2 separate regions of the Homo sapiens genome follow, and region 2 is linked to region 1. A link means that fine-mapping ties the variant in region 1 to the expression of a gene that starts in the linked region. Tissue or cell type: whole blood. Region 1 holds a variant in brackets; the other region holds the start of a gene. All regions are shown on one strand. Distances are between the middles of the regions.

Region 1 (8,179 bases):
ATGCACTGTGATTCACTTTGGTTGAAACCTCATGTGTACTCACATAAAGAACAGGAAGGACAGAACCTAGGTGGCATTGCTCTGCGAGGCAGGAATGCTGTGTTTTTTGTTGTTGGTGTTGTTATTGTTGTTTTTTGAGACAGAGTCTCACTTTGTCGCCCAGGCTGGAGTGCAGTGGCACGATCTCAGCTCACTGCAACCTCCGCCTCCCGGGTTCAAGCAATTCTCCCGCCTCAGCCTCCCGAGTAGCTAGGATTACAGGCGCCGGCCACCACACCCGGCTCATTTTTGTATTTTTAGTAGAGATGGGGGTTTCACCATGTTGGCCAGGCTGGTCTTGAACTCCTGACCTCGTGATCCACCCGCCTCGGCCTCCCAAAGTGCTGGGATTACAGGCGTGAGCCACCGCACCCGGCTATCTAGGCTGGTCTTGAACTCCTGACCTCAAGTGATCCACCCGCCTCAGATTCCCAAAGTGCTGGGATTACAGGCGTGAGCCACCGCACCCGGCCTGTCTTGTTTTAATCTTTGCTTGTCTCCGTGCTGTTTTTCACACTGCCCAGCAGCTGCTTTTGTGACTCAATGGTTATTAAACACAAGGCCTTAAGGACAGCCCCTACATTCCCAGTCAAGTCTGACGCCACCGGGCTGGTTCCTGGTCCCCGCTCTGCCCTGGCTCCCTCACTCTCCCCTGTACGCCCTCTGCTCCTTAAATCTGCAAAGTGCGTTGCTGCCTCTGGGCCTTTGCACTCGCGGTTTCCTCTTCCTTTCCCCCTCAGGCTGCCACAGGTGGGGGCGTGATGCTCCTGACCGCCTTTCCTAGTCCGGGTGCTGCGCACTTTTTCACAGAACTGCACTTCCTTTGTGGGTCTAATCACACTGCAGCCCGGAAGACACGTTCCTGGGCATTTCCTGTTCTTCAAACCTGGCAAAAATCCGGGAACCCTAACAAAGAACTCGAGAAATTTCTATGTAGCTCATTAAAGTGGCGCACTCACACGGTCTTGGCTTAGACTTGGACTTCCGGCCACTCAACCAATTTTAATGCTGTGCATTTGCGTTCTATTCAGGTTTTTTTTTTTTTTTCTTCTTTGAGATGGAGTCTCGCTCTGTTGCCCAGGCTGAAGTGCAATGGTGCGATCTTGGCTCACTGCAACCTCCGCCTCCTGGGTTCAAGCGATTCTCCTGCCTCAGCCTCTGGAGTAGCTGGGAATACAAGTGCGCACCACCATGCCCGGCTAATTTTTGTATTTTTAGTAGAGACAAGGTTTCACCATGTTGGCCAGGCTGGTCTCGAACTCCTGACCTCAAGTGATACGCTAGCCTCGGCCTCCGAAAGTGCTGGGATTACAGGCGTGAGCCACCGTGCCTGGCCAGATTTTGTTCTTAATGTGAGACCACATTCAATATGCTTAGCCCGCTCTTTCAAACTCCAGCGTGCGCTGTAGGAGCACTGTTTGCACGGCCCTGCATCCTCGCCTGCCCTGTCCCCGGGGCGCCCACGCCGCGAATGAAGGCGCCACGTCGTTGCGCACCCAAGCCGGTTTATTTGGTCTCCCGCACACACTCAGGCCTGCATCACCGGCCGTGATTTCTCCGCTTGCAGCTTCACTCCGGAGCCCGCGAAGCCGGTACCGCCCTGGGGGAGGTAGAGAGAAGGACGAGGTAGAGGCCGGCCCGGGGGTGACCAGTGGGGCTCCAGGTGGTAGTGGGGATTCCTAAGCGGGTCAAGGTGAAGCGGGTTGCTGGCTAAGGAGTAGGAGTTGGGGAGGGGGCGAGGCGACCGCAGTGGGTACGGATGGACAGGGCGCAGGGCGCAGAGAAGAGGGTAGAGAGTGGCAGGGGAGGAGCCTTGGGAGGGAGCGTGTGGAGGGGGTGGAGCCGTGGAGGGCTGGAGGCAGGGAAGGGGCGGGGCCTTGAAAAGGAAGGAGGAGGCGGGGCCTAGGAGAGCGGAGGGGGGGAAGGGCGGGGCCTTGCAGGAGAAAGCGGGGGGGGGGGGCGGCCTTACAGAGCAGAGAAGAAGGCGGGGCCTTGGAGAGTTGGGGGAAGGGGAGGGGACGAAGCCTTGGAGGGGGTGAAGGGGAGGGGCGGGGCCTTGGAGTGCTGGGGGAAGGGGAGGGGTGGGACTCTTACCCGCTGCAGCACGATGATGTCGCGGTCTGTGAGTTTGTCTCCAGTCACAGGGTCCACCATGTCCTTCCGAATCAGCTTCTCCACGCATTCGAGGGTGACCACAGCCCCACTACGGTGAGGCCGAAGGCGGGAGACTCTGATCAGGGGCCTTCCTGGGGACCTACTGGCCCCAAAGCCGGACCGCCCCGCAGGTTCCCGAGTGGTCCCTTCCCTCCCCTCCCAGGTGACTCACGAGGGCCGCAGCACAGCGCAGGGGGTGGCGTTGCTCAGGCTGTCGCGGGTCACGGCACACACGTAGCGCTCGCTGCGGGTGATGAGCCCCACGCGGTCCACGGAGCTGTCTAGCGGTGTGAAGTGCACGGGCGTCAGGTCCGACATGCGCAGGGGCTTCCCTGACATGGGGCAGGTCACCGTGCGGGACTGCAAGGGGCAGAGAGAGGCGGGCTCAGTAGGCAGGGCTGGCGCAGGTGGAGAGCGCGTGGTCCCTGTGCGTGAGGAGGACGGTGGGGAACCCTGGCGCCCTGGCACCGTGCGTGCCGGGGCGCTGTGGGGGCTCACCGGCTTCTCCAGCTTGGTGGCCTTGGCTTCGGGCGTCAGCGACGGGATCCAGAAGCTGGGCAGCACTTTGTCCTTGTCCTTACTTGGAGGACCCACACTGGGCCCAGGTTGGACATCATCTGTGGGGGAAGGAAGGGACTCAGATGCCGCCCCCTGGGCCCGCCCAGCCCGCGGCGCCCCGCCCCCCAACCCACAAGAAGCCCAACCTGAGTCACCTGGGCTGGTGCCCGAGAGGGCCTTGGCTGTGAAAGGGTTGAGGGGCCGGCTCACGATAGCCGACTCCTTCTCCAGGAAGCCCCGCACATGGTCCTGCGAGGCCGCCCGCTGAAGCTCCTTCTGCTCCTCGCGCCGGGTGCCCCGCTGCTTCTCGTAGGCCTGCGTCGGGGAAAGTGGGCTGAGCATCTGCCCGTGGGGCTGGGGGTATCTTCCTCCCATTTCACAGGTAGGTAAACTGAGGCCCACAAAGGGGACCCTCTGATGGAGGCACTATGTGGCAGAGGGTGGTAACTGCCACCCTGGGTGGGTGTGAACCTTACTGCGTTGTATAGCCAGACTGCCAGGGCTCAAAGCCCATCTCTGTCACTCTGTGGCCTAAGTGAGCACTATGACCTCTCCTGGCCTCAGTTTCTTCATCTGTAAAACAGCCTAACAGTGGTTACCCACCTCAGCGGCTCACTGAAGGGTTACATAAGGTGAGTGTTTACAGCATGGAGAGCCTCACCTGGCACTCAGCTAAGCATTTAATTAATGTCACCTGCTGGCCAATTAAGTTTTCTATACAGTGCATGCCCCAGCCCGTGTTTGGGACGGGGGATGTAGACTTCAGATCTAAGGGAATGCTGAGGAGCCCATGTCTATGGACGGACAGTGAGTGAGGACGGGAGAAGTGAAGCCATGACCTGAGCTCAGCCCTGCCTGGCGCACAGCAGTTGCCTGGGCGGTGCTGCAGTTCCAGACCACCCTGGGCCACCCAGCTGAGTGAGGAGGTAACAGTGACAGTGATGGATGCTCATGAGGGCCTCCGACATGACCACCAGGCTGTGTGGAGGACATGGGCACAGGGGGAGCCACCTGCTTGGGACAAAAAGCCCAATAAGCATGTGACCTGTAGTGTTTCCTGAGCGCCAGCAACCAGGCAGGGGAAGAGGGGGACAGACCCACTGTGCCTCAAACAGGGCCCCTCCTACCCATCAAATGGCTTTGTCCATGGAAGGCCAGGCCGGGTTCCCAGTAACACGCCTTGAGAATGCTCATCTGCGTGTACCTCCCAGGTGCCCTGCTGTGTCCTCTGATTTGGCCGTCAGCCCGTTTTACAGACGATGAAACTGAGGCCCAGAAAAAATGAGGTGATGTCAATTCACGTAGCACATCTTTTTTTTTTTTTTTTTTTTTGAAACAGAATCTCGCTCGGTTACCCAGGCTGAAGTGCAGCGGTGCCATCTCAGCTCACTGCGACCTCTACCTCATGGGTTCAAGCGATTCTCCTGCCTCAGCTTCCTGAGTAGCTGGGATTACAGGCGCCCGCCATGCCCGGCTCAATTTTTTTTTTTATTTTTTTATTTTTAGTACAGACAGGGTTTCACCATGTTGGCCAGGCTGGCCTCTAACTGTTGACCTCAAGTGATCCGCCTGCCTCGGCCTCCCAAAGTCCTGGGATTACAGGTGTGAGCCACCACCCCCGACCCATTTAGCATATCTTTACTAAGGACCTAAGCTACAGGGTGGGAAAACTCGAAGTCCATAAGGGAAAGTGGGCATGTGTCAGACAGCCACATGTACAGCTACAACTATGCTAAGTGCTAAGAGAAGAGGTGACTGGGGCAGATCCTGGGGACTGGCAGGAGCTCAGAGGAGGCAGCATCTGGGCTGAAATCGGTGAGAAGGATTTGGCCGGAAGCAGGGGAGGGGAATGGTGTACCAGGCAGAGGGAACTGAGATCAGAGGGCTCTGAGTGGCTCTGCCTGTGAGCTCAGACTCAAAAGCTCCTGCCTCCGTGTGCCGCCTCCTCCCCATCCCCATCACCTTCATCTGCCGGGCAATCTCCTTCTTCTGGTGCAGAATGTACTCCAGGATGGCCTCACGCTCATACAGGTAGCCATCTGGGCTGCAAAGACAGGGTGCAATGAGAAAGAAAGAAAGTGATCCTCCCGCCTCGGCCTCCCGAAGTGCTGGGATTATAGGCAGAAGTCATCATGATCAGTCCCAAGTTCAATTATTTGCTAGAATTCACAGAACTCAGCAAAGCTGTTATACTCATGGTGATAGTTTACTGCAGTGAAAGGATGCAGATTAAAATCAGCAAAGGAAAAAGGCACATGGGGCAGAATCTAGTAGAGACTAGATTTGAG[C/T]TTCCAGCTGTCCTCTCCCAATAGAGCTGCAGGGAAAGTGCTTCATTCTCTCAGCAACAATGTGTGCCACATATTGTTGCAGCCACGAGTTCGAGACCAGCCTGGGCAACAAAGTGAGCTCCCCTCTCTACAAAAAACAAACAAAAACGCCAGGTGTGGTAGTGCACACCCGTGGTTCCAGCTACTCGTGGGGGCTGAGGCAGGAGGATCACCTGAGCCTGGGATATCAGTGAGCCAAGATGTCCCCATTGCACTCCAGCCTGGGCAACAAAGTGAAGACTCTGTCTCAAAAAAAAAAAAGAAACCTGAAGGTGGCCTTGGGGGCCCTGATCATTAATTACTGTCTTCTACAAAATATACCACTAATTGAGCACGTATTTAGTGCCTGGACTCAGCACCTGTTAAGCCTTTGCCCTACCATCAGAGGTAGGTCATGGGAAGTGTCCAAAGGTGAGCTGCTCCGATGGCCTCGGCAATGCTCTGAGAGCCCTACACCCCATTAGAAGTATGTTCCTTTCCATATGTTCCACACTATGAAACAGATGCTAGGATCATGCCCATGTCCCATGTGAGAATACAGAGGCTCTGAGGATAAACTGCTCATCCAGGGTTCCCTGGCTGTGCAGGTGGCCAGACCCACGCACACAGCCTCCTCCTGGCGGTTCCCTTGCTCTCCCCACCCAGACCTACCCATCCCTGTTCCCAGCTCACGTGACAACAGGATCGTGGCAAGGCTGCAGGGAGAGACAACAGCAGTCGAAGTCCTTCACGGCATCCCGGCTCAGTCGAATGTTCTGGGTCCCATAGCCCGAGGCCGCTGGGGACAGAGATGGGCAGAGTGATGGAGGGGCGGAGCAACAGGAGACATGTCCGTCTCCAAAGCCCCAGAGAGAGGCACAGAGACAACGCGGTGGTGGGGGTGGGGGACTCAGAGAGAAACAGGCAGTTGGGAGCCGCTGCCTGTGTGCTGGGGCCACGGGCTGAACCCACAGGGAGTTGTCAACCCTGGAGGGTGAGAGGCAGACAGGCCTGGTCACTGAGTGGCAGCTTGGTGGAGGGGCTGACGGCTGACTCCCCTCCACCCTTCTGACTGTGACCAAGCTCAAGTGCCTGTCCCTCTTTGGGCCTCAGTTTCTTCCTCTGGAACATGGGGTAACAAGAGCACCCTCCCTGACACTCTGTTGGGAGGAGTGAGTTCATGCGCAGAAGGCAGAGAACACAGTGCCGGGCCACATGGGGTCATGGGATCACCCAGCTGTTGTTTACATGGTCATGGCCATCAGTGTATATCGGGGGCGGGAGAGAGACAGGGACAGAGGAAGCAAAACCTGGGGCACGAGGGGAGAGGGTGACTCCAAGACACAGCCATGTCCCGCCTCTTCCCACCCCAGCCCTGCACCTGTGTCCTTCTTCTTCTCGTGGTAGGTGTAGACGGCCCCTGCGGTGCAGTTCTTGCCATGCCGCGTCATCCTAGGGAGGAAGGGACAGTGGCAGGACTGTGGTTACCGGAGGCAGGCAGCACAGGGAAGACCTCTGCAGCCCTCAGAGCTGATCTGCCCCCCTTGATGGGAAAGCGGAGGCGGAGAAGGGGGGTGAGGTGGAAGAGAGGGAGGGCATGTGGTCGCCAGGCCTCCTCCAGGAAGTCCTCCTTCCAGACTCACCTAGACTCATTTATATGTGAAAATAGCACCTTTAACAACAAAACTCTTTGTTTGGAGGTAAGAGGGTGAGAGACCAGAGTTCAAATTCTAGCCACTACTTCAGATTAGCTAGGGTGGTGGCTGTGCCATTTAATGGAGGGGAAAAAAAAAGACACCAAGGGGGCCACTATTGTTGATGAATCCACTCCACCTTCCCTTCCCCTCTCATATCTGTAAGCTCTGACTGAGGCCAAGGCGTGGACCAGCCCAGTGATTGGCTCAAGGCTGGGCACTTAGCTAAGGCTTGACACTTAGCTAAGGCTTGACCCAATCGCTGCCTGCCAGTCCACTAGCGACTGGATCTAGCAGCTGTGATTATGTCTCAGATCGACCGATCAGAGGGCAGGTCAGAGTAGGGCTCTGTGTCTAGGGGAAGAGCTACCTCCACTCCCACTGCAGGTAAAGGAGGAAGAGAAGACCCCAGAACCCTGGAGCTCAATTCAAAAAGCAAAGCTTTTTTTATTCTGTAAGTTTTCAAACACATACAAAACCAGAATAGTATAAGGAACCCCCATGATGTACCCATGTCCTGCGGTCCAGCAGCTGTCAACATTTTGCCACCTTACTTTGATACCTTTGATCATTCCCCATACTTAAGGGCAACCCCCACCCTTTTAAATGACTTTATTGAGACACAATTCACATACCATAAAATTAACCCTTTTAAAGTGGTTTCAGACCAGGTGTAGTGGCTCACGCCTGTAATCTCAGCACTTTGGGAGGCTGAGTCAGGTGGATCACTTGAGTTCAGGAGTTCAAGATCAGCCTGGCCAACATGGTGAAACCCCGTCTCTACTAAAAATACAAAAATTAGCTGGGCGTGGTGGCACACGCCAGTAATCCCAACTACTCGGGAGGCTGAGGCACTGAGAATCACTTGAGCCCAGGAGGCAGGGGTTGCAGTGAGCCGACATCATGCCACTGCACTCCAACCTAGACAGAGCAAGGCTCTGTCACAATTAAAAAAAAAAAAAAAAAGACATTGCCTAAGCCAAGATAATGCACATTTATTCCTATGTTTTCTTCTAGGGGTTTGATCATTTTAACTTTTACTTTTTGAGTTAATTTTTGTGTATGGTGTGAGGAAGGGAGCCCCCTACTTTTCTGGAGTTCATTTGTAAAAGGAGAAGCCCTGAACCCACAGAGGCTGGGCAGCTTTCACCAAGACTGCTTGGCCAGTAAACAGCCTGCATGCCTGTTTGTTTGTTTGTTTTTTGAGACGGAGTTTCACTCTTGTTGCCCAGACTGGAATGCAATAGCATGATCTTGGCTCACTGAAACCTCTGCCTCCCAAGTTAAAGCGATTCTCCTGCCTCAGCTTCCCAAATAGCAGGGATTACAGGTGCCTGCCACCACGCCTGGCTAATTTTTTTGTATTTTTAGTAGAGACGGGGTTTCACCGTGTTGGCCAGGCTGGTCTTGAGCTCCTGACCTCAGGTG
Region 2 (8,170 bases), 23 kb after region 1:
GTACAGCCATTCTGGAAAAGTCACAGTTTCTCAAAAGGTTAAATAGTCACCTTTTGACCCAGCAATTCCACTGCCAATAGAAATAAAAACATACATCCATGCAGGCGGGGCGCGGTGGCTCATGCCTGTAATCCCAGCACTTTGGGAGGCCAAAGCGGGCGGATCATGAGGTCAAGAAATCGAGACCATCCTGGCCAACATGGCGAAACCCCATCTCTACTAAAAATACAAAAATTAGCTAGGCGTGGTAGCGCATGCCTGTAGCCCCAGCTAGTCGGGAGGCTGAGGCAGGAGAGTCGCTCAAACCTGGGAGCCGAGATCACGCCACTGCACTCCAGCCTGGGTGACAGAGCAAGACTCTGTCTCAAAAAAAGAAAAAAAAAGAAAAGAAGTATATCTTGGGTAAAGGAATATTATCCAGCCATAAAAAGAATAAAGTAGCTGGCTGGGCGCCGATGGCTCACACCTGTAATCCCAGTACTTTGGGAGGCCAAGGCAGGAGGATCACTTGAACCCAGGAGGTTGAGGCTGCAGTGAGCCATGATCGAACCACTGCACTCCAGCCTGGGTAACAGAGCAAGGCCGTGTCTCGGGAAAAAAAAAAAAAAAAAGAAGTATTGATACATGCCACAACATAGGTGAACCTTGAAAACATGCTAAATGAAAGAAGGAAGGCAGTCACAATAATATTTTATGGTTTCATTTGTGCAAAATACCCAGATTAGGCAAATCCACAGATATAGCAGAGTAGTGGCTGCCAAAGACTGGGGTGGGAAGGATTGGGAGGAAATAGGGAATGACTGCTAATGAGTACCAGGGTTTCTTTTTGGGTGATGAAAATATTCTTAAAATGATAGTGTTGATGGTTGCACAACTCTGTCAACGTACTAAACACCACTGAATTGTATATTTTCAATGGGTGAACTATATGTTAGGTAAATCATATCCCACTAATGCTTTTTTTTTTTGAGAGGGAGTTATGCTCTTTTGCCCAGGCTGGAGTGAAGTGGCATGATCTCAGCTCACTGCAACCTCTGTCCCTAGGGTTCAAGCAATTCTCCTGCCTCAGCCTCCTGAGTAGCTGGGATTATAGGTGCCAGCCACCATGACCAGCCAATTTTTGTATTTTTAGTAGAGATGAGGTTTTACCATGTTGGCCAGGCTGGTTTCGAACTCCTGACCTCAGATGATCCACCTGCCTTCACCTCCCAAAGTGCAAGGATTACAGGCATGAGCCACTGTGCCTGCCCAATGGGGATTTTTAAAACAGGTAGCTGGCAGGATTTGAGTTTGGTCTGTAGAACATAATTAGCTGATCCCTGGCATGAGGAAACAAGTAAAATGAGGCCGGGCTCAATGGCTCACACCTGTAATCTAAGCACAGCACTTTGGGAGGCCAAGGCAGGAGGATCGCTTAAGCCCAGGAGTTTGAGACCAGCCTGGGCAACATAGTGACACCTTGTCTCTATCTATTTTTTCTTTTTTTTTTTTGAGACAGAGTCTCACTCTGTCGCCCAGGCTAGAGTGCAGTGGCGTGATCTCGGCTCACTGCAAGCTCTGCCTCCCGGGTTCACGCAATTCTCCTGCCTCAGCCTCCTGAGTAGCTGGGACTACAGGTGCCTGCCATCATGCCCGGCTAAGGGGTTTCACCGTGTTAGCCAGGATGGTCTTGATCTCCTGATCTCATGATCCGCCCGCCTTGGCCTCCCAAAGTGCTGGGATTACAGGCATGAGCCACTGTGTCTGGCCTATTTTTAAATACTTAAAAAAAAAAAGAAAGAAAACAGAAGCAGGTAAAATGAGACCACAAAAAAGCAAACGGGACAAATTCAGATGGTGGGATGATCAACTGAACTAGAATTAGTTTCTTCAATGAATCGATTACACCAAGAAATAACCAAAGTGGAGTGGAAGGGGGAACAGTTCTAAATTAAGAGAGATGTAAAAGACGATAGCAATTACTTAACTATATCCTGATTCCAACAAACCCACAGTTACACTGGACTTGACTCTGCACCACGTAATGGATAGTAGTCTAGAATTACGGTTGTTCTTTTAAAGTGTGATGATGGTATTGTGGTCATATCAGCAATGTTTCTGGTTTTTACACACGCACCCTGTTAGATAAAATTTATAGAAGGTCATTGGTTTGGATTGAGCTCCTGCACTAGGTTCAACAGACCAAACCAAAATGGAGACACTCATGCTAAAGTTCCATGCTTCCAAGCCAAAACTAAGTTGATATCTGATCTTCTGAGATATCAGGAGAGAGATAATAGCCAAATCCCCAAACAACCCAGTTTTAGCCCACCTGATAAAGGAAGTCCCCTCTACTTTAACCTTTAACTTAGAAATTTAATCAAGTTAATCAATTTAATCAACTAGCTTTTTGTTTTCCGTTTCTGATTTTCTCAGCCCTTTGTCTCTGAAAACAACCTCTGCTCAGCTCATCGGAACACTCACGCTATTTTCCATAATTAGATGTTGTTTGATTGTAGATTCACGAATAAATGCCAATTAAGATCTTCTCACTAAATGTGTTGCAATTTTGTCTTTTGACAATCCTTAAGTGTCATGATGCCTACGATTTGTTTTAATCTCTTTAAGTTTAAAAAAATACAGCAAGTATGGCAAAAATAATCATTGGTGATTTGGGTGACAGGAATTCCTGTATTCTTCTCTCACTTTTATATAAGTTTGAACATTTTCGTAAGAAAACATTAACATCAAACTGCCTCAAGGACCGTTCAAGCCCCAAGTTCACAGAATTAGCAGCACAATCAGAATGGGAATCCATGACTGCCTGACCCCGAAGCTCCACACAAGAAAACGTGAATCCCTGCACCAACCCCGAAAGGGAAGGGGCTGTCAAAAAGGTGAAGAGAAGGTGGCGATGGATGACTGCACAATCTAGTATCGCCCGCCGTCCCACCACAGTCTGAGAAACTGAGGCCAGGAAAGGAGTTCTCCCTCCTCAACTCCCACTCCTTAGACCCCCAGCAATCCCAGTCCACTCCTTCCCTTGGGACCACCAGCAAATAGCCATCATCTACAGCAGAACTGTAACTCTCAGGAGAACTGGCCGATGCTAGCTACCACTTGACTGAGTTTATAGTGAGAGAGAGAGACAAAGAGAGAGAGAACTGCCCGATGGACGGTTGGCCACCTCCAGCAGAGTGTAGTTCAGCTTCAAACTTGGGGCGCCCGGACAGCTGTATTAATAATGATTGACAGGGAATCGGGAATCCAAAATCTTGCCCCAGTCTCCCTCAAGACCCCAGGCCTCTAGCCCGCAGGAAAGCGATCCCAGCAACACTCTTCCTGCACCGCCTCGAACTCACCTCACTAACGACTCCCAGTCCCTCGGTCGCTTCTTCAACTGTGCCCCGACACCGGAAAGGAGCACTATTTTCCCCCTCCGCTCCGCCCACTTCCGCCCAGCAGAAGGCACCGGAAGTAGAGCTGCCCCTAGTTGCGGAAGTGCCTCGCCTGGCTTGCTCAAGTCCTCTCTTCTCTTTCTCTCTCCGGAAACGTGAGTAGCTAATCGAAAGTTCCGGATATTGAAACTGGTGGGAATATGGGGAACGCTTACTATGTACGAGGCATTTCCCAGGGAGATCGTTTTTTCCTGCTTGGTTCCCAGGTTTTGAGTCTCTCCAAGCCCAAATTTAAGGACTAATCACTTCCCCTAGAGATCGGGAAGCCCACTTTCCCAAATATATCATCCACTTTTCTTGCTGCATCTTAAAACAATTGAGAAGAGACAACTACGCTCCCATTTTACAGACAGAGCCATTGGGAAATTGAAAATCAAAGCCGTTCAAGTCGCTCTCAGGAAACAGGGATTTACTGCGGCACTGCCCAGCTGTCCCAGGGACTAAGGCATATCGTTCCCGCTAGTTTCTAGATACCTAGAGACCTAGATATTAATTTTTCTAGCTCGGACAGACGAACTCCCAGGGGAGAGCCAGAGCGGGTAGGGGTCGGGAGGGAGGAGGAGGGTCGAATCTAATCCCCCAGGTATCCCATGGTATTCGACACCTTGGCTTCCTCATGGAGCTCTGGCCTTTAAGTCCTTTATCCCAAGGTCCCTTTAAATACTTTGTCCCTTACCTGAGTCCCGCCCAGGGCAGGTAATGGCAAGTTCCGCCCACCTGCCAGAAACGGGGATCAGGCCTGGTTACCGGGAGTGGGGCGCCCCTCCTCCTTATCCCCTCCCCTCTTCCCTGTCCCCTTTCACAGCTGGCTGTAGCTGGCCAAGGAGTTCTCGATTAAAGAGGAAGGGGCAGTGCTCACATTTCTGGGCAGGTAAGTGAATGTCCCTGGAGGAAGAGCCTGGCTTGGGGACCCAGGCATCCTGGCTCCCCGCCCCTCCGAGACCCAGAAGTTTGGGGCTCCTAGGCCCAGGAGTCCAGGGCCCCTGCCCACTTAGGTCCCTAGACCCAATAATATAACTAATCCCCTGCCTCTGCCTCTCTCGTAATCTTTGTTGTCTGTGGGTGGATGTGACAATGAGCACAGAAAGAGGCACAAGTGGAAATTACCAGGAAGGGAAGACTCCAGATCACCAGTGGACATGTTTATAAGCATCTGTGTCAGGTGCTGTAGACACAGTGGGGAAAGAAAGATAAGCTGCCTGCTCCTTGCTTTCTTCTCTGGCGGACACTGCCTTCACTGAAATCCTGGCTCTCACACTTGCACACTGTGTGACCTTCGGCAAGCTATATTACCTCTCTGTGCCTCAGTTTCCTGTTCTCTATACTGGGGATAATAATAGGACTCCTGGTCGGGCGCAGTGGCTCACACCTGTAATCCCAGCACTTTGGGAGGCCGAGGCGGGTGGATCACTTGAGGTCAGGAGTTTGAGACCAGCCTGGCCAACATGGTGAAACCCCATCTCTACTAAAAATACAAAAAATTAGCCAGGCGTGGTGGTGCGCACCTGTAATCTCAACTACCCGGGAGGCTGAGTCAGGAGAATCGCTTGAACCCAGGAGGCAGAGGTCACAGTGAGCTGAGATAGCGCCACTGCACTCCAGCCTGGGTGACAGAGCGAGACTCTGTCTAAAAAAAAAAAAAAAAAAAAACTCCTGTGAAAAGTTTTGTTTTGTTTTGTTTTTGACATGGAATCTCGCTCTGTCACCCAGGCTGGAGTGCAGTGGCACAGTCTCGGCTCACTGCAACCTCTGTCTCCCCTTTCAAGTGATTATTCTGGCTCAGCCTCCCAAGTAGTTGGGATTACAGGCGCCCACAACCACGCCTGGCTAATTTTTGTATGACTCCTGTGAAAAGTAAAATGAGTTGAGGCCGGGCACAGTGGCTCACGCCTGTAATCCCAGCACCAGCACTTTGGGAGGCTGAGGCAGGCAGATCACTTGAGGTCAGGAATTCAAGACCAGCCTGGCCAACATGGTGAAACCCCATCTCTACTAAAAATATGAAAATTCACTTTGGGAGGCTGAGGCGGGCAGATCACGAGGTCAGGAGATCGAGACCATCCTGACTAACACAGTGAAACCCCATCTCTACTAAAAATACAAAAAAATTAGCCGGGCATGGTGGCCGGCACCTGTAGTCCCAGCTACTCGGGAGGCTGAGGCAGGAGAATGGCATGAACCTGGGGGGTGGAGTGTGCAGTGAGCGGAGATCACACCAATGCACTCTAGCCTGGGTGACAGAGCGAGACTCTGTCTCAAAAAAAAAAGAAAATTAGCGGGTGTGGTGGCGCATGCCTGTAATCCCAGCTACTTGGTAGGCTGAGGCACGAGAATCGCTTGAACCCAGGACACAGAGGTTGCAGTGAGCTGAGACTGTGCCACTGCACTCCAGCCTGGCTGACAGAGCGAGACTCCATGTCAAAAAAAAAAAAAAGTAAAATGAGTTTATATAGGTAAACAGTATCTGGCACAGAATACAGGCTGTGTAAGTGGCTGCTATTATTGCCATTCGTGGACCACAGAGGCCAGTCAGAGAGGCACTGCCTCATTACCCAGGGACTAAGGCCCTTGTCAGCTGTAACAAACCTGGTTCTAGGTGTCTGGAAAATATGAGGGGCCACCCCTCTCTGCTGCTGCTATATATGGCATTAACCACCTGCCTGGATACTTCACCCAGTGAGGAGACAGACCAAGGTGAGTGTTTGGGGGAAGTGGCATCCAGACACTTGGCGTTGGCCTCCCCCTGACTCAGGAATGTTTCTAGTCCTTCCTCTTCCAGGAGTCCAGGACCCAGCCCCTTCCTCCTTCAGACCCAGGAATCTGGATTCCCAGCCCCTGCTCCTTCCTCCAGGACCCCACTGCTTTCCATCCCCCTATGACTCCAGCCCTAGGGACCCTCCATTTTTCTGTCCCTCATGTCTTTGGGTCCAGAAGTCTTCCTGGGTCCCCCAGAGGCCCAGAGCTTCCTGAGTAGCCATACCCGGATTCCAAGAGCCAACCACTGGGACCTGGAGCTGCTCACACCAGGGAACCTGGAACGGGAGTGTCTGGAAGAGAGGTGTTCCTGGGAAGAGGCCAGGGAGTATTTTGAGGACAACACTCTCACGGTGAGGGCCTCGAGACCCTGGAGTTTCGGGCCCTCTCTCTTCTCTATACCTGTGGGGAGGTTGCAGGGGTAGGTTCTGGCCTTCAGCTCCCTCCTCCTTGGTGTCTCAGAAATCAGGATGGGCTAGTTTGGGGGTGTGAACCTCCCAGCTGAATTCCTGCTTTTTCCCCTTCTTTTCCACTCCTTCCCCCTCAAGGAGCGCTTTTGGGAGAGCTACATCTACAATGGCAAAGGAGGTGAGTGAGGGGCTGAAGCCATCTTGTTCTGTGCAGCTAAGGTAGTCCCTTCCCAGCGAGGCCAAACCAACGTCCTCCACCCCAAATTAGGTACAAGAATCGTCTGCCCCCCAATTCTGTGCTCTCTGAAGCTGGCTGCTAAAGGAGTTCCCTCCCTTAAGACCCCAGCTTGCCTGAGGAGCCCCCCACACCTTATTTTATTTTTAAATATTTATTTTTGCTTTTTTTTTTTTTTTGAGACAGAGTCTCGCTCTGTTGCCCAGGCCGGAGTGCAATGGTGCGATCTCGGCTCACTGCAAGCTCCGCCTCCCGGGTTCACGCCATTCTCCTGCCTCAGCCTCCCGAGTAGCTGGGACTACAGGCACCCACCACCACACCCGGCTAATTTTTTGTATTTTTAGTAGAGACGGGGTTTCACCGTGTTAGCCAGGATGGTGTTGATCTCCTGGCATCGTGATCTGCCCGCCTCGGCCTCCCAAAGTGCTGGGATTACAGGCGTGAGCCACCGCGCCAGGCCTTTAATTATTTATTTTTGAGACAGGGTCTCGCTGTGTCACCCAGGCTGGAGTGCTGTGGTACAATCTTGGCTCACTGCAGCCTCAACCTCCCGGGCTCAAGCGATCTTCCCACCTCAGCCTCCTGAGTAATTGGGACTCCAGGCACACATTACCATGGTAATTTTTGTAGTTTTTGTACAGACGGGGTCTCACTATGTGGCCCAGGCTGGTCTTGAATGCCTGGCCTCAAGCAATCCTTCTGCTTCAGTGTCCCAGACTGCTGAGATTATAGGTGCCAGGCCCCCCACCACATCTTATTGGACGCAAGTCCTGTGTCCCTAGGAAGGGAAAAGTGTCAGTGGAGGGAAAGGTTAGAGCTGTGGGGCCCGTCAGGCCTTAGGCTCAGAGGGGCAGGCCCACCTGAACCCTTCCCTGGTGTCCAGAGTAAGTGGAAAGACCAGCCCCTCCGGCAGCTTGATTGCTGGGGACACAGCCCTCTAGCAACACGACCAAGGGAGGAAGCCTGCCCATCCTCACCTGCCCATTTTGCCCCCAAGAACCCCTTCTCTGAGGGGTTGCCATCTTGTTCCCATCTTGTTGCCAGCCTTGTTGCTAAGGGGGGCTGCTCCTTAGCAACGGGGCCTGGCCAGGCCAGACCAGACGAAGAAGCCTGAAGCAGTACCTGGCTGATTTCCCCTCCCCCACAGCCCCATCCCAGCAGCTGCCTGGTTGCTAAGGAGGCCTTCTCCCTAGCAACCACACCTAGCCAGGCTCCAGGACCCAAGGCCTTCTGCCCACTGGAGGACCACCCTCCGGGCCTCCGATGCCCCACCCCCTTGTGGCCCGGTTGCTAGGGGTAGCTGCACCTTAGCAACAGGCCTAGGTCTGGGCTGG

The links. PIP is the estimated chance that this variant, and not a neighbour inherited with it, causes the effect.
Region 2: NOSIP starts here. The variant in region 1 is fine-mapped to the expression of NOSIP in whole blood (TOPMed, PIP 0.98).

What each region holds. Positions count from the first base shown.
Region 1 is chr19:49,554,184-49,562,362 of GRCh38, forward strand. NOSIP (nitric oxide synthase interacting protein) reads right to left here. Exons shown (of 9, transcript NM_001270960.2): 2 at 6,439-6,509; 3 at 5,751-5,856; 4 at 4,714-4,795; 5 at 2,907-3,066; 6 at 2,692-2,810; 7 at 2,366-2,553; 8 at 2,134-2,242; 9 at 1,285-1,639. The coding sequence starts at 6,508. The coding sequence ends at 1,568. Among named protein-coding and RNA genes, the nearest start is that of NOSIP, 22 kb to the right of the region's middle. RefSeq lists enhancers at 1,869-2,650, 6,416-6,465. The variant C/T (reference allele first, on the strand shown) is at 5,040.
Region 2 is chr19:49,577,174-49,585,343 of GRCh38, forward strand. NOSIP (nitric oxide synthase interacting protein) reads right to left here and starts at 3,383. Exons shown (of 9, transcript NM_001270960.2): 1 at 3,342-3,383. PRRG2 (proline rich and Gla domain 2) reads left to right here and starts at 4,143. Exons shown (of 7, transcript NM_000951.3): 1 at 4,143-4,308; 2 at 6,034-6,131; 3 at 6,369-6,544; 4 at 6,740-6,779. The coding sequence starts at 6,047. RefSeq lists an enhancer at 7,435-8,060.